4 linked regions of the Homo sapiens genome follow. The protein of the gene in region 2 interacts with the protein of the main gene of each other region in a pairwise test. Each region holds a gene or a part of one and is shown on either strand. Other genes may lie near its edges.

Evidence for each region.
Region 1: the proteins of SH3GLB1 (region 2) and TPD52L2 interact in binary tests that used the Homo sapiens proteins (3 or more experiments, as listed by UniProt).
Region 3: the proteins of SH3GLB1 (region 2) and ABHD12B interact in binary tests that used the Homo sapiens proteins (3 or more experiments, as listed by UniProt).
Region 4: the proteins of SH3GLB1 (region 2) and SPART interact in binary tests that used the Homo sapiens proteins (3 or more experiments, as listed by UniProt).

Annotation. Positions count from the first base shown.
Region 1 is NC_000020.11:63,868,246-63,875,273, forward strand, and holds part of TPD52L2 (tumor protein D54), read left to right. Parts: intron 1-1,050; coding exon 1,051-1,196; intron 1,197-5,422; coding exon 5,423-5,571; intron 5,572-7,028.
Region 2 is NC_000001.11:86,707,553-86,714,580, forward strand, and holds part of SH3GLB1 (endophilin-B1), read left to right. Parts: intron 1-7,028. UniProt on the Homo sapiens protein: May be required for normal outer mitochondrial membrane dynamics. Required for coatomer-mediated retrograde transport in certain cells. May recruit other proteins to membranes with high curvature. May promote membrane fusion.
Region 3 is NC_000014.9:50,896,052-50,903,079, forward strand, and holds part of ABHD12B (protein ABHD12B), read left to right. Parts: exon of another isoform or gene 1-789; intron 790-5,777; coding exon 5,778-5,860; intron 5,861-7,028.
Region 4 is NC_000013.11:36,336,392-36,343,419, reverse strand, and holds part of SPART (spartin), read left to right. Parts: intron 1-7,028. UniProt on the Homo sapiens protein: Lipophagy receptor that plays an important role in lipid droplet (LD) turnover in motor neurons.

The sequences.
Region 1 (7,028 bases), on a different chromosome or scaffold from region 2:
ACAGGGAAAGTGTTACAATAGTCATGTGCTTGGATTTGGAGAGAATCGAAATAGACTGTTTTTCTTTATGTGAAATCTTGTAGACTTTTAGGGTAGTCAGGAAGATGCATTTGACATGAAGAAAAAACAGTGGCTGCAGGAATTTGAATGTGATCTGGGTGTAGTTGAGGTGTGTGGTGGCAGCACACCGCTCTGCACCTCTCTGCCTGCTGGCGGCCTTCTGGCAGTGGGATGAGAATCGGGAGGTAAGTAAAGGGAATTTTGTTTTGCTGCCTCCCTGAAGGAGCTGAATGAGCAGCATGTGCTCCTAGTACGTAATTTTAGCATGTGCTCTGTCAGATGTGTTGAGAGGAAAGTGATGCTTATTGTGTATATTAACCATATTAGGTTCCTTTTTTTAAAAAAAGTGGAAATTTGTCAGGGTATGGTGGCTCACACCTGTAATCCCAACACTTTGGGAGGCCAAGGCGGGCGGATCACCCGAGGTCGGGAATTGGAGACCAGCCTGGCCGACATGACGAAACCCCGTCTCTACTGAAAATACAAAAATAGCCAGCGTGGTGGCGTGCGCCTGTAATCCCAGCTACTCGAAGGCTGAGACAGGAGAATCACTTGAACCCGGGAGACGGAGGTTGCAGTGAGCTGAGATCGCACCATTGCACTCCAGCTTGGGAGGCAGAGTGAGACTCCATCAAAAAAAAAAGGTGGAAGGTCTGTTAGATTGAGCTGCTTTCTCTGTAGCAAGGGTTTCCTGCCTCTGACGATAGTATTCTCACTGGGAAGCCAGAATTCGGGTTTGCCTGCCTTGGGCCGGCATTTGTCGTGCCCTGAAGCAGCACAAGTGGCATTGGCTTTTCAGCTCAGGTGGTCTGAGGTGTGGCTGCCCTCGTCTACTGCCCATGCTGTCCTCACAGACCTTTCAGAGAAGAGGTGTTAGTCTCCAGGGTCTCACCCACTCCCACCTGTGCTTTTGTCCTGCTAGAGACCTCTACCGTATTTACTTGGAACTAACTTATTTGACACTTTGTGGCCTCATTTTGTCTCTGGCAGATATCAACCTGAATTCTCCTAACAAAGGTCTGCTGTCTGACTCCATGACGGATGTTCCTGTCGACACAGGTGTGGCTGCCCGGACTCCTGCTGTTGAGGGTCTGACAGAGGCTGAGGAGGAGGAGCTCAGGGCTGAGCTTACCAAGGTGCTGTGGCTTGGCTGTCTGTCCTGGGGTGAATTGGAGTTAAGGCCCTCTTGGATTAGTGAGAGGCCAGGGTACTGGCCACGCTCGGGAGGAATTGCCCTGGGTGGTCACCTACCCTGCTCTGTGTTCCGACTGATAACGGGGTTCTCTTTGTATGTGCCCAGCTCCATGCACTGGACTCAGAGCCACCTGGCAGTGGAGACAGGGCATGACTCCCTTCCCATACCTCTGTGCCTGGCCCTTCCTAAGTGCTCCCTGAGGAGTGTTCACACATGAACCGCCTCTGAGCAGCCATCTGCTGGGAGTGTCTCTGTTGGAATTAACACTTGATAATCATTTTTAAGACCCCATGAATCTTTCTTGTCCTGGATCTTAAGTTTTCTTTTAAACATATTTATTTTGGCTGGATGCAGTGGCTCATGCCTGTAATTCCAGCGCCTTAGGAGGACAGGGTGGTAAGGTGGGAAGATCACTTGAGCCCAGGAGTTTGAGAGCAGCCTGGGCAACACAGTGAGACCTTGTCTCTACCCCCAAAAATTAGCCAGGTGTGGTGGCATGTGCCTGTAGTCCCAGCTACTCAGGAGGCTGAGGTGAGAGGATTGCTTGAGGCCAGGAGGTCAAGGCTTCAGTGAGCTGTGATTGCATCCTGCACAGCAGCCTGGGTGACAGGGCGAGACCCTGTCTCAAAAACAAAACAAAAACTTCTTTTCTAAAAAGTATTTATGTGATCTTCTTTAAGTGAGAGTCCCTTAAGAGTAATGTAGGAATTAAGAACAAAAGCCTCCAACCATAATTTTTAGTCAAACCAACTGCCAAGAGTTTTCTTTTCACCCTGTGATGTGGTTTAATTCCAGAATCTGGGTCCAGGCCTAGGTCTGAGTAAGGTTGGTTGTGCCGCTGAGTCTGAGGACCAGGTTTCAGATCCTGAGGACATCACACAGCTATTTCTAGCCTAGAAGATTAAAGGAGAGTAGCAGGAAGTCCAAGGACACTTTGCTTTCCATTTAACTTCAGAATATGTGAGTTTAGAAACTAAATCCACAAGGTTTTTTTCAGAGTTGAATTACAATAAGGTGAAGTTTTTTTTTTTTTTTTTTTTTTTTTGAGTCGGAGTCTCTGCCGCCCAGGCTGGAGTGCAGTGGCGCAATCTCGGCTCACTGCAACCTCCAACACCCGGGTTCACGCCATTCTCCTGCCTCAGCCTCCTGAGTAGCTGGGACTACAGGCGCCCACCACCACGCCCGGCTAATTTTTTTGTGTTTTTAGTCGAGATGGGGTTTGTTTTTTTTTTTTGGAGACAGAGTCTCGCCCTGTCGCCCAGGCTGGAGTGCAATGGTGTGATCTCGGCTCGCTGCAATCTCCGCCTCCCAGGTTCAAGCGATTCTCCTGCCTCAGCCTCCCGAATATCTGGGATTACAGGCGCGTGCCTCCCTGCCCATCTAATTTTCGTATTTTTAGTAGAGACAGAGTTTCACCATGTTGGCCAGGCTGATCTCAAACTCCTGATCTTGTGATCCACCCACCTTGGCCTCCCAGAGTGCTGGGATTACAGGTGTGAGCCACTGTGCCCGGCCCCTACAAGGTGAAGTTCTGTATTGCTTTTTTTTGTTGTTTTTCTTGAGACAGAGTCTTGCTCTGTCGCCCAGGCTAGAGTGCAGTGGCGTGATCTCAGCTCACTGGAGCCTCTGCCTCCCTGGTTCAAGTGATTTTCATGCCTCAGCCTCCCAAGTAGGTGGGATTACAGACGCCTGCCACCACACCTGGCTAATTTTTGTATTTTTAGTAGAGACAGAGTTTCACCATGTTGGCCAGGCTGGTCCCGAACTCCGAGTCTCAAGAGCTCCACCTGGCTCAGCCTCCCGAAGTGCTAGGATTACAAATGCGAGCCGCTGTACCCAGCCAAGAAAGAGAATTTTTTTTTTTTTAAGGACGGAGTCTCACTCTGTCGCCCAGGCTGGAGTGCAGTGGCGTGATCTGGGCTCACTGCAGCCTCCACCTCCTGAGTTGAAGTGATTCTCTTGCCTCAGCCTCCCGAGTAGCTGGGATTACAGGCGCACAGCACCATGCCTGGCTAATTTTTGTATTTTTAGTAGAGACGGAGTTTCACCACGTTGGCCAGGTTGGTCTCGAACTCCAGACCTCAGGTAATCTGCCTGCCTCAGCCTCCCATAGTGCTGGGATTACACGCAAGAAAGAGTTTTTTTTTTTTTTTGAGACTTTTTGCTCTTGTTGCCCAGGCTGGAGTGGAATGGTGCGATCTTGGCTCACTGCAGCCTCTGCCTCCCAGGTTCAAGTGATTCTCCTGTCTCAGCCTCCCGAGTACCTGGGGTTACAGGTGCATGCCACCACGCCTGGCTAATTTTTGTATTTTTGGTAGAGACGGCCTTTCATCATATTGGTCAGGCTGGTCTCGGACTCCTGACCTCAGGTGATCTGCCCGCCTCGGCCTCCCAAAGTGCTGGGATTACAGGCATGAGCTATCGTACCCGGCCAAGAAAGAGAATTTTTAAAGAGAAGCTAGTCATATATGAGCTGAAGATACTGAGAACTCATTCTAAAGTGGTAAAGCTTTGAATGATGCCCCTTTCAGAGGTCATGTTCTTTTTTTTTTTTTTTTTTTTTAAAGACCTGAGAAAGTTCAAGTCTTCATGATCAGGAATCTTTCTGTTGCTCAGTTCTAACTACGTTAAGCACAAAAGATAATTTACCTTTTGGTTCGTGTAACTGACTCTTGCCAAGGTTTGGAACTGACCTCAGGAACACAAGTGTTTTCTTAAGGGTGTTTTTTTCTGTCACCTGTGTCACTGTCCATCTGCCTCCTCCTCTCTGCATATGGAATTCTATGAGTGCAGACGGTGCCCGGCTGCCAACAGTTCCAGCTTCTATTGTCCAAGCCCAGACTGAGAGCCCTGAGGGAAAAGGATCCTCACTGTTTTTTGTTTGTTTGTTTGTTTTTGAAACAGTCTCGGTCTGTCACCTAGGCTGGAGTGCAGTGGCATGATCTCGGCTCACTGCAACCTCTGTCTCCTGGGTTCAAACAGTTTTCCTGCCTCAGCCTCCCGAGTAGCTGGGGTTACAGGCGTGCACCACCATACCTGGCTAATTTTTGTATTTTTAGTAGAGACGGGGTTTTGTCATGTTGGCCAGGCTGGTCTCAAACTCCTGACCTCAGATAATCTGCCTGCCTTGGCCTCACAAAGTGCTGGGATTACAGGCGTGAGCCACTGTGCCCGGCCAGGGTCTTCACCATTTTTTTGTTGTTGTTGTTTTGTTTTGTTTGAGATGGAGTCTCGCTCTGTCACCCAGGCTGGAGTGCAGTGGCACAATCTTGGCTCACCCGCAAGCTCTGCCTCCTGGATTCACACCATTCTCCTGCCTCAGCCTCCCGAGTAGCTGGGACTACAGGTGCCCGCCACCGTGCCTGGCTAATTTTTTGTATTTTTTAGTAGAGACAGGGTTTCGCTGTGTTAACTGTGTTAGCCAGGATGGTCTCGATCTCCTGACCTCGTGATCCGCCCGCCTTGGCCTCCCAGAGTGCTGGGATTACAGGCATGCGCCACTGCGCCCGGCCGGTCTTCACCTTTTTAATACCATGCCCAGTCCTAGTAAAGAGCTCGGACAAACCTGGCATGGTCATCCTGGGCCATTCCTCATGACCACAAATGGACATGGTGATTGGTAGCTCTCCCAGAACCATTTAGTTGTGGGGCATGGGATAGTTCCCTGGAGTCAAGTTCCTAGTACCAGATAAAAACAAATGTCTGCTGGCTGGGCGCGGTGGCTCACGCCTGTAATCCCAGCACTTTGGGAGGCTGAGGTGGGAGGATCACCTGAGGTTGGGAGTTTGAGACGAGCCTGACCAACATGGTGAAACCCCATCTCTACTAAAAATACAAAATTAGCCGGGCAGGGTGGCACACGCCTGTAATCCCAGCTACTTGGGAGGCTGAGGCAGGAGAATCACTTGAATCTGAAAGGCAGAGGTTGCGGTGAGCCGAGGTCGTGCCATTGCACTCCAGCCTGGGCGACGAGCGAAACTCCATCTCAAAAAAAAAAAAAAACCAAAACCCAAAAATCAGATGTCTGCTGTAGATGCTGTTATTCCTAGGACGAGTTAATGCTTTGGTAAGCGGAAAGTTCTTGTGTAACTCATGGCACTGTGCATGAGGATGTTAGTCACTTCCTGCAGTAGTGATGGCTCATCATGTCAACTGCATGCTTTGCAGGTGGAAGAGGAAATTGTCACTCTGCGCCAGGTCCTGGCAGCCAAGGAGAGGCACTGTGGAGAGCTCAAGAGGAGGCTGGGCCTCTCCACCCTGGGGGAGCTGAAACAGAACCTGTCCAGGAGCTGGCATGACGTGCAGGTCTCTAGCGCGTAGGTACCTGCCCCAGGCGCACCCCTGGGGGCTGAAGAGAACGGGCACCACACGTGCCCCGGCATGTGGGGGGGCGTCGTCATGCCCAGGGACGAGTTGCAGCCGTGGAGTTGAGTGGCCTGTTTGGAAGGATCCAGAGAGAGGCTCTGAGCCCTTGGCCCAGCGACTGTGCCTTGTTTGTTCAAAAAGCTTGGTGTCTACATGTGTTTTATTTATTTTTAAGTTTTTGTGTACTTTATTATTATTTTTTTTGAGACAGAGTCTCACTCTGTCGCCCAGGCTGGAGTGTAGTGGCGTGATCTTAGCTCGCTGCAACCTCTGCCCCCCGGGTTCAAGCGATTCTCCTGCCTCAGCCTCCCAAGTAGCTGGGATTACAGGCGCCTCCCACCGCGCCCGGCTGATTTTTTTTTTTGTGTGTGTGTGTGTGTGTGTGTGTGTGTTTTTAGTAGAGATGGGGTTTCACCATGTTGGCCAGGCTGGTCTTGAACTCCTGACCTTGTGATCCACCCACCTCAGCCTCCCAAAGTGCTGGCCACCACGCTGGCCTTTTTTTTTTTTTTATTATTATTCTTTTTTGAGATGGTTTCGCTCTGTCACCCAGGCTGGAGTGCAGTGGCGCAATCATGATTCACTGCAACCTCAACCTCCTGGGTTCAAGCAATCCTCCCAACTCAACCCCCCTCGTAGCTGGGATGACAGGCGTGCGCCACCATGCCTGGCTAATTTTTTCACGTTTTATAGAGACAGGGTCTTGCTTTGCTACCTAGGCTGGTCTCAAATTTCTGGGCTCAAGCAATCCTCTTGTTTTGGCCTCCTAAAATGCTTGGGATTACACGTGTGAGCCACCACATCCGGCTTATATACGTGTTCTAAAAAGGCAGACACACTGGCTAGTTGTCCTGGTGGAAAATGATAGGAAGACTGTTTCAGGGTCCAGACTTGAGAGAGCACTGATCAGGTCCTTGGCAAGAGCGGTTTTTCTGTGGTCCTTGTTGTGGGTGTGGCATGGTCACAGCCTCTGACCCAGATATGGCCATATGGGCCGGGCATGGTGGCTCATGCCTACAATCCCAGCACTTTGGGAGGCTGAGGCGGGTGTATCACTTGAGGTTAGGAGTTCAAGACTAGCCTGACCAACATGGAGAAACCCTGTCTCTACTAAAAAATAAAAAAATTTAGCTGGGCGTGGTGGTGCGCACCTGTGATCTCGGCTACTAGGGAGGCTGAGGCAGGAGAATCTCTTTAACCCGGGAGGCGGAGGTTGCAGTGAGCCAAAATTATGCCACTGCCCTCCAGCCTGGGTGACAGAGCAAGACTCTGTCTCAAAAAAAAAAAATATATATATATATATATTTATATATAGGACCATATGGTCCCACAACCCTAGGGACTCTGACCCTCCCCGATGACGACGTGGTCCTACATGACGACGTGGTCCTATAACCCTGGGACACCT
Region 2 (7,028 bases):
CTTCTTTAATGTGTCTGTAATTGTTAGAGATACATACTGAAATGTTTATGGATAAACTTATATCATATCTGAGATTTGGTTTTTACAGGGTATTTTTTTTTTTTTTTTTTTTTGAGATGGAGTTTGGCTCTTGTTGCCCAGGCTGGAGTGCAATGGCGCGATCTCAGCTCATTGCAACCTTCGCCTCCCCGATTCAAGCCAATCTCCTGCCTCCGTCTTTCAAGTAACTGGAATTACAGGCAGGCTCCACCACGCCCAGCTAATTTTGCATTTTTAGTAGAGATGGGGTTTCACCATGTTGGTCAGGCTGGTCTTGAACTCCTGACCTCAGGATCCACCTGCTTCGGCCTCCCAAAGTGCTGGGATTACAGGTGTGAGCCACCACACCAGTTGAGATTAGCGTTTGAATATTTCAAAAGAAAAAAACAGAAGTCGCTGAAACAACAGCAACGGAATGTTGATAGTTGTGGAAGGTTGGTTATGGGTTCATGAGGTTTCATTATACTGTTATACTTTTGTATGTTTGACATTTTCCATAATACTTTTTTAAAGATAAAATTTGTAAGAAAAAAAGGATGCTTCTAAAATAGAACATGTGAAATTTGGAATGCTGTGTGGTAGTTTTCAACAAAACACTGCTTTCTCATCTCAGTATTTATTTCATCACTGAGTTCCTACATTAAATTGCATTGACATCAGTATAATGCCAAAGTACCAAGTTTCATGCTAAGAATAGCTTAAGAGCTATGCCAATATCTCTTTATAAGCAGTAAGAACAGTAGAGAGAGAAACATTCACGTTTATAAATAATAATTTTCATTCAAATCAAATTGTACCGTAAGGAATATGCCATTCTTTGGTTGGCCAACGCCATACATTGTTTTCCATTTTACTTAAAAATTTCTAAGTTAAAAATTAAACATGTTTCTTGTTTTAAAAAAAGGTCAGCTCAAACTAGTAAAGCACATAGATGCGTCCCATCACCACTCCACTTCCCTCCTTTTAAAATTTGTTTATAAGCCTTGGTACTTTAAAAAGAATGTTAGACTAGAATGTATAAATGAGTAGGAATGTTTATTCTTAACTAGCCCATTTGGGTGCTTGTTTTTAAGTACCTCAAGATGGTAAAATACAAAAGTATCAGGTAATTCACCCTTGCTTAATTGTTATTTTACTAGAGTTTTAAATGCCATTTATTCTTAGAATCCATCTTTTTAGTCCAAACTTCTTAGTTGAGCATTAAATACTCCCTTACAATCTGGTCCTTTCTCTCACTTATATAAACACTGTATTCCAAATTATTTTTTAATTTCCAAAATATCTTCTACTTATTTTAGGCTTTTGTTCATATGGTTAGACTCCTCTTAAGTGTCCTGTCTGCCTATTCTTTCCTTTCCTTAAGATACAACTTTATTCATCTCCAAAATGGAGAGAGTAAAAAAAATTTTAAAATAAAAGTAAAATAAACTTTTTTTAAAGATATAGCTTCAAATCCATCTCAGCTGATAAGGCTTCTTAGACCACAAGAGCTTGCTGTGAAATCGTGAATCATTTTCAATTCCAAATGATGAGGTGGCACTTTTCTTCTAATGAACTGTTATGTTAGATCTCTTGGAACTCTAAAGTTCTGTTACTCTGACTTTCTTTAATAAGTTTGTATGTGCTAAGGCATCAACTCTGTTTCTTATTCCCCTCTTACAACATCTAACATGGTTCATCTTTTATATCATTTTAGCCAGGCAAATTACCATCCATATGTGAAGTTTAATCTTTGAAGGGCAACAATAAGCATGTTAAATAACAGTATCTTTATTAGTATTTTCTAACATTGTTTGCGGACCTTGAAGTTAACTAATACCAGTATAAATTGAGTACCTCCTAGGTGCTTGGCGTTGAAAGATACAAAGCTGAATGAGACCCTGTTCCTGCCCTCAGAGACTTCATAATAATAGTCTCAAACTTGTCATAAATCTTATTTGTACTAAATAGCCATTTTGTGAATAACTTTATTTGATAAATCTTTCAAGTGGATAAAGGAACAAGAGATGTGTTTTTAACTCAGAATTCTTATTGAAGCAAAACCTTGCTCACCATCATTAAAATAAGAGCAAAGACTTTCTAAAAAGAATTTTTCAAATCAAATTACTTAGGGAGGGAGTTCATTTTAATTTTCTAACATTTCCTCTAAACTGATTATTAAAGTCATACTATGAAATTCGTGAACACCAGCTATTTTCTAAGGAATATAGTTCTTAAAATATAGTTTTGAGCTTGGCCTTGATCTCCCATTTATTTCAGCAAGTGTCATGGTGTGTCTAAGGATGTAAAGATGAATATGATGTTGCCGTTCAATAGCTCCTGTCAGACCCTCCCTGGAGTTTCAGTTTGGCCAAACAACTCTCTCAAGCACTTCTGAAATCCTATTTCTTTTACAGAATTCACACCGTGACAACTTCACCATGTTTCTTAAATTCTAATAAATAAAATATGTCACATTCGAAATCCATACATTTTCTTGTTATATAAAAACTCTACATGTTTAGTGTTACTTAAAACTGTTTTCACATCCTTTGGTGCTATTTGCATTACTTTAGTAAAATAGATAGAAGATAGTTTGTTAACCTGATGTTAAAATTTACACTTATGTACTACATGAGTAAGGTAATTAGAAAATCTATAAAACTCTTTTAAATTCATCATATTTCTTGAAAGAATTTTTTTTTTTTTTTTGAGACGGAGTCTCGCCCTGTTGCCCAGGCTGGAGTGCAGTGGCACGATCTTGGCTCACCGCAATCTCCGTTTCCCAGGTTCAAGCTATCCTCCTTCCTCAGCCCCTCTAGTAGCTGGGATTACAGACACGCGCCACCGTGCCCGGCTAAATTTTGTATTTTTAGTAGAGACGGGGTTTCACCATGTTGGCCAGGCTAGTCTCGAACTCCTGATCTCAGGTGATCCACCCGCCTCAGCCTCCCAAAGTGCTGGGATTACAGGCATGAGCCACCGTGCCTGGCCTTTCTTGAAAGTATTTTTAAGGTAATGACAGAGCTACAAATTAATCCTAAACTCTTAACCACACCCAACTGATGTACTCCTAGTTGCTTTGCTACTATATTTAAAATGATCAAACACCTAAGTCAATTACTTTAATATTCTTTGGAGACCAGCTTACTGAAAGAACCTCAACACAGTTAATATATTTGAAGCAAAACTCCAGCACAGTGAAGTAACAGTAATAACAGCTGAAATTCCTAAATGGGCCAAAGAGGAAAGTAAAGTAATGCAGCATGCACTAAACCAAGCGATACATATTTAAATAGTTATGAATGAGTTTAGAACAGTGGTTCTCAGTCTTGGCTGCACTTAAAATGCTTGGGGAATCTTTATAAATGCCAATATATGAGCTACACCCCAGTCCAATTAAATTAGAATCTTAGGGGTTGGATCAGACCAGACATCAGTGTTTTCTAAAGCTCCCTCAAGTAATTCTAAAGAACAGCCAAAATTGGGAACCAATGGAGAAAGATGCACCTTACAGTTTACTAATACATTATTCAGAATCTGTGTTACATATTTTCCAAGAAATTTAAATTACTTTTAGAGTATTACCCTTTAGTAATACTGGTGATTAGAGTTTGCATTAAATAGATGTCTTTGATCACACACCCATTTTATTTGTAGTCTTTTTTTTTTCTAAAAGTAGAGTTTGGAATCCAGGCTCCTTATTTAATAATGTGGGTTATATGCCTATCCTGTAGTAAAAGAAGGATTACAGTGCCTGGTATAATGTAGCCGACTCAAAGACAATTCTTTCCGCAAAGCAATATTTAGAGAAAATATATAAAAGGGGATTAAACTTTTATTCTTATGCCACTTTGCCATATTACAAATGAAATATGAAAAAATTAGGTATCAAATTATATTTTAGAAAACATTGAGTTTAATGACTTACTAAGAAGATGCTTATTTACAGTTTGCCTTTTATTTTAGGTTGTTTACACAAAAGTTCTTAATTATTAAACTATACTGCCATCTATTCATTAAAAGATATGCTTAAAATCAACTAGTTTCTCATTAATACCTATTATCAAGAGATTACAAAATCAGTAATGATTTTTGACTTGAAGATGTTGAAAACTAAAATTTTTATGGGTTAATTTAAAATTTTTTGGTAACTAGGAAAGGGATCTTTTTTTAAAAGAAAGAATTAATAGGTCTTTTGCCCTTCTGAAAAGGTGCCATTATTATAATTTTGTTTGAGTCAAGGCAGTATTCTCCTAGTAGATCATAAAATCCTTGAGGGCAAGAAGTACATCAGATGCTGATCATCTTGCTGTAGAAGCCATAAATATTTTTGATTAGTAATTTAAATATTAATTTAGTTGAGATGACTCCTAGTGTCTGTAGTAGACGCATTATTTACAGTGCTTTAGAGAAAATGTATTAAATATTGTATTTGTTATCTTAATAAAGTGTACTTCTGATTAATTATGGAAAAATCCTTTTGCTTCCACCAATGATAAAATTTGGGAAATATTATGTCTTTTACAATTATATATTTAAGTAATAAGATTTAAATTTATAATTTCAATTTTAAAATATGATAGCATTAGCAATGTCCTTATTGTGTGTCTTCCTCCCTTTTATTCATTCATGATAGGATTTAGTTTACTAATTTTGGTGAATAATTATTGAATATCTTGTAGAAAGCAGAAGTGATCTGGGGGAGAAAGCTGTCCAGAGTGCTGCGAACAGACATAGGAGAAAGGAAGCACAGAATATGATTGGATAATAGTAATAGAAATAGAAAATACTAATTTTGGAAATCAGCAAGTATTTACTGGAAGGGTAGTATAGCATGATAAGACTATGACTCAAACAGATGTGAGATTGAATCCCAACAATGACACCTTGGACAAAGTGTTTAATCACCCTGAGTCTCAATTTATTAATCTCTACAATTATTCTTACTTTATTTTAAGATTCTTTCGAGTATTTGTTGTAGAATGCACAGCTTAGTTAATGGAATTTTTGAACATACACTAAGCCTTGACACAGAAGTATGAGAAAGATGTAAATGGATGTGCTGAAATGTGAAACATAGAAACATTGTCATGTGACCCTACAGTACTGCTATTTTCTAAACAGGTTTTCTGTAATTAGACTGTCTCACTCATGTGTAAGGGTTCCATGTATCTTCTGAACTAAAATAGTTAAAAAAAAAAAACCTACTAATTGTGTGTGTTTGTAGAATCTTTATCAGTTAACATATTTTCTTTCTTCCTCAGACTCATACAAATAAATCACTTGGTGCAAATACCCATCTTTGCTCTGTTATACTTTCATACTCTTTTCAAAAAGAATATATATTTATTGAGATACCTGGGAGGTAGTATCATGAGAGTCACAAAGAAAATGTTAAATAATTAAGCAAACAGGCCTTTTTACCTGAAGATTGAAGTGTTTTATTTTCCAAATAATTAACTTTCTAATTGCTGATTTTCCTGAAATACTGTCGGGAGAAAACTTGCCCTGAACCCCAGTTTGTATCAGATAAATTCAGTGACTATTTTATTTTATATTTATTTATTTTATTATTAACTTATTAATTAGAGATAGGGTCTTGCTGTGTCACCCAGAATGGAGTGCAGTGGAGTGCAGCTGGGACTACAGGTGTGCACCACCATACCTGGCTAATTTTTTGGATTTTTTTGTAGAGACGTGGTTTCGCCATGTTGCCTAGGCTGGTCTAGAACTCCTGAGCTCAAGTGATCTGCCTGCCTCAGCCTCCCAAAGTGCTGACATTACAGGCGGGGGCCCCTGCTCCTGGCCATAAGTACTGATTTTGAATTATTGATCTGTTGATTTTTCTATTAATCTATTCTTGGTTATTAACTATAAGTTAAGGATTTCCACAGAGAAATTAATATTTAATATGTGTGAGGGTGATGCTAATGAGCTTAAAGAAATTGTGCAACTGGAAGATAAATCATCAGGACTATACACTCTTTCCTTAGATCTTAACATAGTTCATATCATTCAGTCACAGGTCGTTTGTTACCTACTCAGAGATGCTGTTTCTCTAACTACCCGCATCTCACACTCCTCAAACTCCTGCTCCCCTTTCTAGGCCCAAGTTGCCCATCCCTCCCCCACTGAAGCCTTCCCTGATTCTCCTGCTCTCCCTCTTCCTCTCCCTGAAGAATGAATTCTTTCTCTGTACTTGGATTTGTATGTCACTCAGAAACAAACCAACCATGTTGGTCCGCTTTACCATCTTCATATCTTTATATCCTTATTATCAGATTATTTATTTATCTATTGTCTGTCTTTGCCATTAAAATGTAAGCTTCCTAAGAACAGAAACCTTATATGTTTTGTTGGCTGCTGAAACCCATGTGTTTAGAAGAGTGCCTAGCACATATGTAGGTGCTTAATAAGTATTTGTTGAAGGAATAAACAAAATGAACAAACAAATGGATAAACTTGCTTATTAAAGGGAAATTTATGCATGCAGTTTCAATTTTTAAGGGGCTAAGTGAATTTTTTTTAGATCACTCTTTATAGGTGATGTTCACCTGAGTGAAAGGTATTCCCTTTCTTCCCTTCCTATTGGTCACTTTATCTGGGAGTTATTTTATCTAGCCATTGGTGGTAGACTTTGAACATGTAAAAGTCTAGTAGGAGGTCTGTTGCTTAGAATCTTCAGGGATCTGTAAAGACTACGGGGTTCTCTGTTAAGAATGAGGTTGCATAGTTTATCCAGCTGGCCTTGGGATCAGGGTTTGCTTTTGCTCAGTGCCCAGTCCTCCAGCTACACTGCAAGTTTATGGGCTTAGGCAATAGCTTTGTAACTGCTATTTTTGGTTCTACCCACTAGGTCAGGGGCTGGCTATAGACCATTCTCAAAAAGACCCAAGGCTTTACAAAAGCTATTTAAGCTGTTATTTCTAGCCCCTAAACAGGAGCCTCAGTGGAGATTGTAACCAGAAGTCTAAGAATAGAATTCTAGAGGATCCTTCAGCTTAAGG
Region 3 (7,028 bases), on a different chromosome or scaffold from region 2:
CCCGACCTTAACCCACAAGTATAAGATACCTCTACTCCCTCCTTGGTGACCGATCATGCACCCCTTACCATCTCATTAAAACCTAATCACCCTTACCCCACTCAACGCCAATATCCCGTCCTGCAGCATGCTTTAAAAAGATTAAAGCCTGTTATCACTCACCTGCTACAGCATGGCCTTTTAAAGCCTATAAACTCTCCTTACAATTCCCCCGTTTTACCTGTCAGCCCTGAGAAACATCGCCCATTCTCCCTCCATACCACCCCCCAAAAATTTTCACCGCTCCAACACTTCAACACTATTTTGTTTTATTTTTCTTATTAATATAAGAAGGCAGGAATGTCAGGCCTCTGAGCCCAAGCCAAGCCATCGCATCCCCTGTGACTTGCACATATACGCCCAGATGGCCTGAAGTAACTGAAGAATCACAAAAGAAGTGAAAAGGCCCTGCCCTGCCTTAACTGATGACATTCCACCATTGTGATTTGTTCCTGCCCCACCTTAACTGAGTGATTAACCCTGTGAATTTCCTTCTCCTGGCTCAGAAGCTGCCCCACCTTAACTGAGTGATTAACCCTGCGAATTTCCTTCTCCTGGCTCAGAAGCTCCCCCACTGAGCACCTTGTGACCCCCGCCCCTGCCCACCAGAGAGCAACCCCCTTTGACTGTAATTTTCCATTACCTTCCCAAATCCTATAAAACGGCCCCACCCCTATCTCCCTTGGCTGACTCTCTTTGCGGACTCAGCCCGCCTGCACCCAGGTGAAATAAACAGCCATGTTGCTCACACAAAGCCTGTTTGGTGGTCTCTTCACACAGACGCGCATGAAAAAATTTTGTCTATTGTTACTGGTTTTTTGGACTGCTTGCTTTTTCAGTTACTCAAAGAGGATTATTAAAGTACCTCATCATGATTGTGGAATGGTTTATTTCTATTTTAGTACTGTTAATTTTTGTTTTAGTTTTTTTGAGGTTATGTTGTTAGGTACATAAGCCTAATAATATTATGATTTAGTTTAGTTTTTTTTTTTTTTTTTTGAGATGGAGTTTCACTCTTGTCACCCAGACTGGAGTGCAGTGGCGTGATCTCAGCTCATGGCAACCTCTGCCTCCTGAGTTCAAGCTATTCTCCTGCCCCACCCTCCCAAGTAGCTGGGATTACAGGCATGTGCCAACACACCTGGTTAATTTTTTGCATTTTTAGTAGAGACAGGGTTTTACCATGTTGATCAGGCTAGTCTTAAACTCTTGACCTCAGGTGATCCACCTGCCTCAGCCTCCCAAACTGCTGGGATTACAGGCATGAGCCACCATTCCCAGCCTATGATTTAGTTTTCATATCTTCCAGGTGGATTTATCATTTTCATCATAAAATGTCCACCTTTTTTGTGATCAATATTGCTTCTTGACTTAAAGTCAACTTTGTCCAATATTTGTATATCTTTGTTTTGATTAGTGTTTGCATGGTATAGGTTTTTCTATCACTTGATCTCAACAGGACATAAATAGGAGGTATAAAGTTAACAGGGATTTCTACGGGTCTCTTTGGAATCAGTTTTGTTACTCAGAATTGAAAGGCAGCATGATGTTGTGGAAAAGAGTATGGGCTGTGGAGCCACTCAGACTTGGGTTCAAATCTGTCCTTGGCCACATACCCTTTGTGACCTTGGTAAATTGTTTCTCCCTAAGTTTTCCCATTTTTTTACCAAGGGGTTGGCGAAGACCACTGCACAGGGTTGTTGTGAAGACTGAATTAAGTAAGATAATGTATGTAAAGTACCCAGCTGCTAGTAAGCACTAGACAAATACTTGTTCCTTTCCGTCCCTCTTTCTGTTACAAATTAGGCTAAAGTGTTATGTATGGCAGGAAAAGGCAGGGAGAATTCAAGGCAGGGAGAATTACTGAAGAGAGAGGCTTTGCTCACAGGTGTGGCCAATGAAGACTTCAGAGCCTATTGGACCTAAGCTTCTTTCTTGAAGGTGAGGGAAAGCAGTTAGGAAACAGAGCGAGGAACAGGTGAATGTTAACTCAGACCCCTGGCAGGAATGGGGCTGTTCTACGTTATAAACTGCCTGAGAGTTAATAGAGGACTTCCACACAAGTCTTTCGCACTCGTTATTCTTTTAAATCCTCACAGCAACTCTCTGAGTTTGTCATCATTGCTTCCACTTAGAGATGAGAGAAATGGAGACCTATAGGTTTGCCTAATTGTCACATATCTTATAAGAAGAAGAAATGAGACTCAAACCTACATCTTCTAATTGCAGGCAGATAGACTGGAGGTGAGCAGGGTTTGGAATGAAAGATTGTGGCCAGATGTGCATGGGCTTGCTGTCTAGTTGTTGTTTTCAGTAGATAGTGTGGCATGCCCAAAGCTTCGTAACAGCAGATTTAATATAACTGGTATTTTAAGGATGTTTATCTGGTGGTGTTACAGAAGAGAGAGGAAGGTAGGAAGACCAATTAGGAGAGCCCATTGCCATGGTCTAGGCTGGAGGGGAAGGTATGACCTGTGAGTCTCAAAGGGCACTCCTGGCTGGAAGGGAATGAGGAATAATGAGAGTAGATTGACCGGGGCTTGCTTTCTTCCTACTCTTTCAGAATTTGAGATGAATTGCTGAAGGACTTCTCTTACTGAATTCTCCTCAGGGGAGTCTTAATTCCAGGGGTGAGAGTACCAGAAGACAAAAGAGAAAACAAAACAAGAAATCTTGCCCTTAGCATGGAAGAGGAGGGAGAAGAAAGAGAAGGAAAGGCTGTGTCAGGAAGTCCAGAGCACACCTGAATGCAGATCAGTTGCTATGAGACCAGGCCAAAAAGTTCAGGCCAGACAAATCCCACAGAACCAAGGAGATTCCAGCTGGGCACGGTGGCTGGCGCCTGTAATCCCAGCACTTTGGGAGGCCGAGACGGGTGGATCACCTGAGGTCAGGAGTTCAAGACCAGCCTGGCCAACATGGCGAGACCCTGTCTCTACTAAAAATACAAAAATTAGCTGGGCATGGTGGCAGGTGCCTGTAATCCCAGCTACTCGGGAGGTTGAGGCAGGAAAATCACTTGAACCCGGGAGGCGGAGGTGCGGTGAACCGAGATCGTGCCACTGCACTCCAGCCTGGCCAACAAGAATGACACTCCGTCTCAAAAAAACAAAACAAAATAAAACCAAAAACCAAGGAGATTCCTGGGGGAATAGCAGGCCTAAGCCAGAACTATGAAGCAGCAATTTGTATTTAGTGGCACTGGCTTACCTATTTTATACCCATTTCCTTACCACATTCCCTAAAATGACATCAATTACTTTCTAAAATCAGAAAAATTGTATTTAAGTTTATTCTATTTAGAAAGTCTCTATTCTATTATTACAGTTCATAGTAGGAGACTATTAACAAATGACATTATAGCCATGGGGCAAGTTTTAATTTCTTTTTCTTTTTAAAAAATTGTGAAGCAGAAGTTTGTATTTATTGGGTCCAACCTCCCTATTCTGTGCCTATTTCCTTCTCTTGGCCATGTCCCATTTACTACCCCCTCTACCCCTCCTCTCTCAGGCACAACACGAAAATGTATAATACTTTGCTTATTTTTCCTCTTTGCAAATTTATTGCAAAGATTTGTAATCCCAGCACTTTGGGAGGCTGAGGCAGGCGGATCATTTGAGGTCAGAGTTCGAGACCAGCCTAGCCAACATGGCGAAACACCATCTCTACTAAAAATACAAAATTACCTGGGCGTGGTGATGCATGCCTGTAGTCCCAGCTACTTGGGTGGCTGAGGCAGGAGAATTGCTTGAACCCAGGAGGCAGACGTTGCAGTGAGCCAAGATTGCACCACTGCACTCCAGCCTAGGCAACAGAGTGAGACTCTGTCTAAAAAAAAAAAAAAGAAAAAAAAAATTTAAATCTGGGCCAGGCACTGTGGCTCATGCCTGTAATCCCAGCCCTTTGGGTGGTCAAGGCCAGAAGATGGCTTTGAGCCCAGGAGTTCAAGACCAGTCTAGGAAACATGGTGAAACCCCTTCTGTACAAAAAAATTAGTTGGGTGTGGTGGCACACCCCTGTAGTCCCAGCTACTATGGAGGCTGAGGAGGGAGGACTGCTTGAGCCCAGGAGTTTGAGCGCTGCAGTGAGCCATGAGCATGCCACTGCACCCACTCCCAGTCTAGGCAACAGACTGAGACCCTGTCTCAAAATAAACAAACAAATAAATAAAATAAGTAATATCTGAAATTCAATCATACTAAATGAAAATGACAGATAATAACAAAGTGTACGCCAGGGATATTTGCACAATAGACTCATTTTGTCTTTAGCAAATATTTATGAAGTGTCTATTATGTACCAGGAACTTTTCTAGTTTTTGAGGACACCACAGGGAATAAGAAAGTTGTGGTCCATTTACCTACGAAGTTCATATTGTTGATGGAGAAACAGATAGAAGATAAATACATTAAAAAAGAAATCCAATAGTGAGAAGTTCTGTGAAAGCACCAAAATAATGTGATGGAGAATGACTGGGTGGTGGGGGCAAGGTTTGGTAGCTGGTTATGGAAAACAGCTCCGAAGAAATAGCATCTGAGCTGAGACCTGCCTGAGATGAAGCCAGCTGATGGGAAAATATAGAGATCTCAGGCTGGGGTAAAAGTAAAGGCAAGCGCCTTGAGGTGGGATCAGGCCTGACATGTTCCAGAAGCAGAAGGCAGCAGAGCCAGGAGGTGGACAGGAAGGTGCTTAGTGATAGGAGATGAGGCTGGAGAGGGAGGCAGGAAGCCGCCGGATTCTTCAGGGCCTTGGAGGCCAAGGTGACATGTTCAGGTTTAATCCAATTGCCTTTGGAGGGTGTTAAGCGAAAGAGTGCTACGATCTGATTTGCACGTTAAAATAATCATTCTGGTTTTCCTGTGGGAACTGGATTATGGAAGGGTGAAGGCAGAATCGGGGAGCCACTTGGAATTGCAGCTTAGTATAAGCAAGAGATGAAGGGTGGCTTAGGCTAAGTGATAGTGGGGATGGGGAGAAATGAATGGGTTTAGGATATAGTTTTGGAGGCAGGATTCAAAGTTTGTGAGAAAGGTGCAATATTGCTCAGGATTTTTATCCTTTACTCCTTATTTCCAGATAAAACGGATATTTCTAGGGCATATAAACTAACTTACATGTTGACTATGTGAGTCAAAACATTGTAAAAGTGGATTTAGCTAGCATTCTATTTCTTGGATTTTGCTATTAAACAACAAATTTAGTATGTCTAGAGTGAGCATTGTTATATCTGGAATCCTGTGGTCATTGTTAAAAACTAAAATGTCTTTTAAGGCATTGGCATATTAAATCATATTCAAAAGTTTGTAATGTTCAAATTCTCTAAAATCAATTTTCTATGTATTGTATATTTTCATCAGAATTTTTGACTAATCAGAATATTCTGTCCACCAACTAAACCAGTTATGTTCACAATAGAAGCAATTTTAGGTTTTGCATACCACTGCTTCTACATGGAGAAGTAAGAGTTAGTTGTGCCATTTTTAGGAAGTGAAAACAAAATGTTAACAATGATGGTCTATGATGGCAGAATTATGTGTGCTTTGTTTCTTCTACATTCCTTTCTTTTTTTCCAAATTCCCGACGTGCATTACTTTTTAAATCGTAGAAGTTTTTTGTGAAGTTTACCTTACTTAGAGAAGCACTACTCTCTGTGTTACCCTGGTTCATAGTGAAAGACTATATAACAGATGGCATAGCTATGGGGCAAATATTAATTTTTTTTTCTTTTTTAAAAATAGATTTACCGGAACATTCCAGGATTTTTACGTACACTTATGGATGCCCTGAGAAAAGACAAAATAATCTTTCCTAATGATGAAAAGTAAGTTAATGATGAAAAGACATGCATTATTACTGTATCTAAAGGATTCTAGGGGCAACTATCATGTGACTTACTGGATGGTGACATGAGACATCCTGAATATCATTCTTATTCTTAGAATATTGTTCTGCGCTTCTTAGATGGGCACTAAGATTTGGGTAAAGTATCTATGAATTTTTAGTATTTGCTATTTTCCTCATGTCTAATTCAATGACTTCACCAATTCAGTACTCTCTCTGAATTCATAAACGAAGTTGTATATCTATAGCCTATCAAGACCTTTTAAAGGGCTTGGTAGTGTTAGCGTATGCCTATAATCCTAGCACTTTGGGAGGCTGAAGTGAGAGGATAGCTTGAGCCCAGAAGTTTGAAACCAGCCCGGGCAACACAGGGAGACACCATCTCTACCAAAAAATTTTAAAATTAGCCAGGCGTGGGGGCACGTGCCTGTCATCCCAACTACACGTGAGGCTGAAGTAGGAGGATCACTTGAGCCTGGGAGGTTGAGGTTGCAGTCAACTGTGATTGTGCCACTGCACTCCAGCCTGTGTGACAGAGTGACATCCTGTAAAACAAACAAACAAACAAAAAACCAGCCTAACATTTCTTGAGGCATCTCTGACTTCTAGGCCCTTTTCCCCATATAATGAAAACTCGTCTACCATCCACCTTACTAATGTGACAGCAAATCCAATGACTAGAATTTATCAAGTTAGCCTGTTACAGTTAGAGAATTTAAGAATGCTTCCAAATAGACAGTTGTCAATATATTTTTCTATGTCAACACACTTGAGAAAATCCAACATTCTCAGGGGTGTCAGTGAGTCACTGTGGCAGAGATGGATGGGTATCAGAATTTTGGGGGGACAGGGAAGCATTGCTTGAGAAAGTAACTAGAGTGGGAGACAAGACATTCTTCATGCCATAGCCCTTTTGAATTAGCAAACTAGGGGGTTGACCAGGAAGCTAATCAGACCTGTTAACTGCACGTCCATCCTCTACATTTATGGAGAAAAGTAAACAAATTGCTACAAAGAGGTCTCTGATTCTGTCATAGTTTTTGTTTTATTGAGGTTTTGAGTTTTGTTTTCTTTTTTAGTCTTTTAATAAAATATTTCAGATGTTACAAAATAGGTGGAGTAAAGAAGAATATAAGGTTCTTCTAACA
Region 4 (7,028 bases), on a different chromosome or scaffold from region 2:
AGTTTTATATCCATCACCATCAATTTTTAAAATACATTATATTTTACACACTTCCTTTTTTAAAAAATTTTACTTTTTTATCACCCCCACCCCACAGAATATTATCTTAAGGTAATGCATTTTTATGCTTGAAAGCTTTTTATTAATCTCTGTGATACATGGCTTTAATAACAATAGTTATATAAATTGAAGCTAAGTTTAAAAATTTCCTATAACTAATTCTGTAAGTTGTAATTTTTCTTTTGGGTTGAGTTATTATAAATAGTTGATTAGAATAGCTTAAAAACTTGATGGATTTTAATGAATAATAATTATTAAGAGTAGAAGTTTACTGGAAATCTGTGTCCTAATGGAATGGATAGTGGGAGTTGTGCCTAAATTAAAGGAGGGTCTTTGAGCCCTTCGACTTATTGTTTGTTGGTAGGGAGGCTTTTCCATCCTGGGGCAGTGTACCATAGTAAGAATAGGAGTGGGTGAGAAGTATGCCTTTATTTTGTAAAGTGGAAGATTGTGAAAGGATCTTGGGGAATAAAAATCAGCATGATAACTGGACAATGGGCATATTCTCAGGCAGATCAGTTTAGTGAGAAGTACTCATGGGAGTAAAGGATCTGGAAGCCTTTTTCTTAAAATTACACATGTCGTTGGTGTATGTCCCATGGAAGACTTCATTTGTCCTGGGGGGCACACATCCCCCAGTTTGAAGACCATTTAGAGTGGTAATTCTCAGTGGGGGACGATTTTGCTGCCCAAAGTACATTTGGCAATGTCTGGAGACGTTTTTGGTTGTCACAACCGGGATGAGGGGTGGTGCTGCTATGGGCATCCAGTGGACAGAGATCAGGGATGCTGCTAACAAAGCATTATCCAACCCAAAATGTCAACCATGCCAAGACTGAGAAACCCTGATTTAGAGGATTTGTTTTGGAATCAGACTATTTAATTCTGTAAACTAGTGCAGGGTCAGTAAACTTTTTTTGTTAAGTGCCAGATAGTAAATATTTTAGGCTTTTGGGGCCATGTATGATCTCTGTTGCACATTCTTCTTTGTTTTTATAACCTTTAAAAAATGTAAAAGTAATTCTTAATTCCAGGGTCTTTCAGAAAACAGGTGATCTAAGGCAATTAATGCTTGCAAACTTCAATTTTCTTCTCTGCAAAGTAGTACTAATAGTAATATTGCATCAAGAATTGTTTGTAAGGATTGAGATAAACACCTAGCATACTGTCCAGCATATGTTAAGTACTCTAAATGATGCGTGGGGATAGTGGTGTCCTATCGTATGTAGCACAAAAGTGGGTGCCAAGTCACAGTGTTGTTCAAGACCCTGTTCAAGTCATTTGGACAAATTTAATGATGCTGGTGAAGCTCCCAATCAACTCACAGATGCCTATTTAACCTCTGCTGTCTTTCTGCTGCCTTAGTCTGGGCCTCCTTGTATCCTGAGGAAGATAAAATACAAAATGCCTGTCTTGTGGTTTCTTTGGAAAGATGTGGCAATCTTATGACACAACAGGATAGTATTCCAGGAGAAGAGATTGTTAATATTGATAGGGGTTGTGGGGTAGAGCAAATACGTGGGTCTGTATATGGTCAATTGTATATGGTATTTTCTAAATTGGGTACTGAATATATTCTGTTGACTACCATGAAGTTGTTGCATAATAAGGCTGACTAGTGGCACTTCAGGTTAGAAAGTATAGTTATATTATTAATCGGAAGCTAGACCAATTTTAATGAATGCTTTCTGTGATGCTTCTGTGCTTTCATAGTGTAGATTGCTGCTAAAATAGTTTCATATCAGTGAAATTCTTCTATCGTAAGTTTTCATGAGATCACAGGAAAAGAATTGCCACATCTAATGACAGTAGCCACTAGGTACATGTGGATATTGAGCACTTGCAATGGGGTTAGTTGGAATTGAACTATCTTTTCAGTGTAAAACACATACTGAGTTTTGAAGACTTCATACCAAAAAAAAGAAAGCTAAAATATTTAACTGAAAGTTTTTATATTAACTGCATATTGAAATAATATTTTTGATATATTTGGATAAATAAGATACTATCATTGAAATTAACTTCACCTGTTTTTTACCTTTTTAATGTTATTAGAAAAGTATAAATTACATATGTGGCTTGCATTACAGTTCTGTTTGACATAGTTGCTCTAAAGCTTCCATTTACTTTTTTAATAGTAATTAAATTTTCTATCATACACATAGATTTAAGAAAAATCTTACCCCTTCCTCCCAAAGTCAGCTTGTATCATTTTTCTTACCCAATTCTTTTGGTCTTTTTTGTACTCTAAACAGTGCGAATATATTGGCACTTTTTCAGTTTTAGGCACTGTCCATTAACTTCTCAGTGAGAAAGATGAAGTTTTATCTCTTTCATCCTTTGTCGCATGCACATAAACTTTTTATCCATCCATCTTCCCATCTTTCAATATGGTTGTACCATAATTTTGTTTATATTGAGATTCATTGTGTATATTATGACACCAATCAAAACTGAAACATTTAGTACATTATGATTACTTTTTATTTCTTGCTCAACATCATTTTCCCTAGAGTTAATCCTTAGTTTTTAATTATTACTAATGGAACCCTGAATACTCTCACAGTTGTGTAGATCTTTTTTCAGAGCTTACAATCACATTAGGTATTCTATCAGTTTTACTTTCTTAAAAAATTCTTTTCTGTTGTCTCCTACTCCACCCTGGAGTGTTTGCCTAATTGTTATCTTGGAAACTCATCATCAGTCTTGGGATTCCTTTCATCAAACATGGTACCCAGCAAACAGAAGATGTAATAACTGAGCAATCACTTGGCTGGGTTTAGAAGCTATTTTTACTCAGAATTATGAATTAAATGTATAATTTCCTTCTTCTATTGTTGCCTTTAAGAAGTTCCTTAGCACTCTTACTTCTCTCTCTTTTTTTGTGTGTAAGTATTTTAAAGATGATCCTTTTGAGCTTAGTGTTCTAAAATGTCATGGTATGTTTCTTGGTGTGAAATCTTTTTTTCTTATTTATTTATTTATTTTTATTTTTTTGAAACAGAGTCTTGCTCTGTCGCCCAGGCTGGAGTGCAGTGGTGTGATCTCGGCTCACTGCAAGGTCCGCCTCCCGGGTTCAAGCAATTCTCCTGTCTCAGCCTCCTGAGTAGCTGGGACTACAGGCGCCTGCCACCACGCCTGGCTAATATTTTTGTATTTTTAGTAGAGACAGGGTTTCACCTTGTTAGCCAGGGTGGTCTCGATCTCCTGACCTTGTGATCTGCCCACCTCAGCCTCCCCTTTTTTTCTTATTTTTTGCCCATTGGTTTTTTTATTTACTTTTATTTGTTAGAGATGGGGTCTTGCTCTTTCAACCCAGGCTGGAGTACAGTGGTGTGATCATAGCTCACTGCAGCCTTGAATTCCTGCACTCAAGTGATTCTCCTGCCTCACTTCCTGAGTAGCTGGAACTACAGGCACGCGCCAGCATGTCTGGCTAATTTTTTGATGTTTTCTTTGTAGAGCTGGTCTCACTATGTTGCCCAGGCTGATCTCAAACTCCTGGACTCAAGCGATCCTCCTGTCTCAGTCTCCTAAAGTGCTGGGATTACAGGTGTCAGCCACTGTGCCCAACCTGTTGGTCTTTTTAAATTAGGAAATTCATGTTTTCCAATTCTAGGAAATTCTATGAATTATTTCTTTAATTCTTTCATCCCTTATTTTTTCTCTGTTCTCTATTTCTAGGAGGTTTTTTGTTTGTTGGTTGGTTTTTTTTTTTTTTTTTTTTTTTTTGATGGAGTCGTGCTCTGTGAACAGGCTGGAGTGCAGTGGCATGATCTCGGCTCAGTGCAACCTCTGCCTTCCGGGTTCAAGCAATTCTCCTGTCTCAGCTTCCTGAGTAGCTGGGGTACAGGTGCATGCCATGATGCCCTGGAAATTTTTTTGTATTTTTAGACGGGGTTTCACCATATTGGTCAGGCTGGTCTCGAGCTCCTGACCTCAGGTGATCTGCCCGCCTCAGCCTCACATATTTCTAGAAGTTTTATTATTCAAATGATATGCCTTATAGACTGGGTCCTAATTTTCTTATTTATTATTGCCTATTTTTCATCTCTGTCTTTTTGCTCTGCTTTCTGGGCATTTTCTATAATTGTATGACCTCATCCTTCTTGAGTTTTTCCTTCCTGCGTTTTAAATATTTAATTTCCCGGAGTTCCTTTTGTCACTCGAATATCCTTCTTTCAGTATGCACGCATCCCACTTTTTATTTTATGGATGCGATATTTTCTTTTTCTTTATGTTGATATAAATGATAGGGTTTTTTTTTTTACGTTTCCTGCACATTGTCCATTTCAACCAAATTACATTGCTCTTCTTTTAATCCTTTATACTGGATGTTTGCCTCATGTTTTGTGATCCTGGGCTGTGTGTGTGTCTGTGTGTGAGTGTGTGCGTGTGAGTGAAGCACTAGAAAGCTGATCTGAGATTCTATGGGTGGAACCTATCAACTATGGCTTCTGAACGGTGAATTGCTTGGACAGTTTTCCTTAGGGAACTCTCACTGTCACTATTCTTTGTGTCTTTCTTCTTGGTGATGATCAGATTCCTCAAGAAGATAACTTCCAATCTCCTTTCTTGAGGGGTACCTGGCAGCCAAAACTCTAATTACCAAGTTGTGGGGAAGAAGGCTGTGGGTCTCAATAATCAATGTGTAACATTTCACTTAATCCCCCTGCTTTTGGTTTTTACCCTTAATCATGCCTGATAGTTTCTTATCCTCACTTTATTTTACACTCTTCTAGATCAAAGCACTCAGTCTTTCAGGGCTGTAGAGAAACAGCGTCCTGATTGCTTGGTGTAGGAAAGATCTGAGGGTGCTAATTTGTAAATAGGCTTTCAACCAGTCCTCTTTTTTCAGCTCTTTGTCTACTTCCTTTCCATAGGAAGATTGAATTCCATCAATTCTTATGCCTTTGGAGGTTCTTGATGTGACGTAAGTGCAGCTGCGTCTCTGATTTTCCCACTGACAGTTTAAAGCATCTGTTTTCTCAAGTGTGTTTTGGGAGTTTTCACTTGTCTGCCTCCTTTTTTGACACCAAGTACTGTTGACTTTTCATCTTCCCTATTTGTCCTTGTGAGTTATGGCTTTATTATTTATCTGTTTTATTGAGGAATCACATAAAATGCATATAGTACCCTGATCTTAAATGTATAGTTTAATGATTTTTATGTATATATACAGTAGTCCCCCCTAACCCCTTATCCAAGGGAGATAAGTTGCAAGACCCCTAGTGGATGCCTGAAACCATGGATAGTGTGGCACCCAATTGCTTTCAATTGGAACATGTTTCTGTTCATATCTCAGCCTTTTCCATCTTAACTAAACACTTGTCACATGCTTTGACCATAAGTTTTGCAGTTTGAGGGACAACAGCAAAACTGGCACTAATTTCTTTTTCCTTCTTCACAATTTCAGGAATAGAAAATATGTTATTAATGGTAGATCTTAGCAACCTCAGCATATGATTTTTTTTCTTGTTAAGTTGAAAACTTTAACCTTTTCACTTGAAGGAAGCACTTCACAGCTTTTCAGTGTATCAAAATTGCCAGCATCACTACTGTTGCACTTTGGGGCCATTATTAAGTAAAAAGAATTAGTTGAATCCAACCACCACAATATCGGAACAGTTGATCTGATAACCAAGATGGCTACTGTATTAGTCCGTTTTCACACTGCTGTAAAGAACTGCCCAAGACTGGGTACTTTATAAAGAAAAGAGGTTTAATTGACTCAGTTCTGCGTGGCTGGGGAGGCCTCAGGAAACTTACAGTCATGGCGGAAGATGAAGGGGAAGCAAAGACCTTCTTCACATGATGGCAGGAAAGAGAGAGCTAGCAAAAGCTGGAAAAACTGCCTTATAAAACCATCAGATGTTGTGAGAACTCACTATCAGGAGAACAGCATGGGGCAAACTGCCCCCATGATCCAGTCATCTCCCACGGGGTCCCTCTCTTGACACCTGGGGATTATGGGTATTACAGTTCAAGGTGAGATCTGGGTGGGGACATCGCCAAACCATATCAGCTACTAAGTGATCATGGGAGGGGAGCATAGACAGCATGGATGCCCTGGACAAAAGGATGATTCATGCCCCAGGGGGCACAGAGAGAGACAAGAGGAGATTTAATCATGATACTGAGAATGTGCAATTTAAAATTTATGAATTATTTATCTCTGTAATTTTCCATTTAATATTAATATTTTCAGATCATAGTTGACTGCAGGTAACTGAAACCACAGAAAATGAAACTATACATAAGTGGGGACCACTGTACACCCTTGTAGTCATCACTCAGATCAACAAGAGAACATTTCCAAAGGCCATGAGATTCCCTCCTGTACCTGTGAAGTCTGTAGCCTCTACCTATAAGCACTATTTTGATTTATGTCATATCATAGACCAGTTTTTCCCATTTAATTCATTCATGTAGAATCATAGTATGTGGTCTCAATATGAAGTCTTTTGTATTTGGCTTTTCCTCAAAGAATTGGTGAGATTCATTGATGTTGCAGGCAATCAGGTTTAAAATTTTTTTTCTGTGTATTATTGCATTGTATGAATGAGTGAGCATTTGGGTTGTTTTAAGGATTTGCTTTTTGTGAATATAGTTGCTGTGAATATTGCCATACATGTTTTTGGCATGCACATGCATCCATTTCTCTTGGTTATATACCTGCAAGTGGAATTGTTGGGTCATTGAGTGGGTGTTTAGCTTTAGTAGAAACTGCCGGTTTTCCAAAATGTTGTATCATTTTTCAGCTTTCACCAGCAAGGTAGAAGAGTTCCACTTGTCTTCACTTAGCACTAATCAGTCTTTTAAATTTTAGCCATCTGTTAAGTGCCTAGTTGGTATCACTCGATTTTAGTTTCACTTTTCTGAGGGAATAGTATGTTGAACACCTTTTCAGATGCTTTTTAAAGATTTTCTTCTGTGAAGTGCCTATTCATGTATTTTTCTCACTAAGA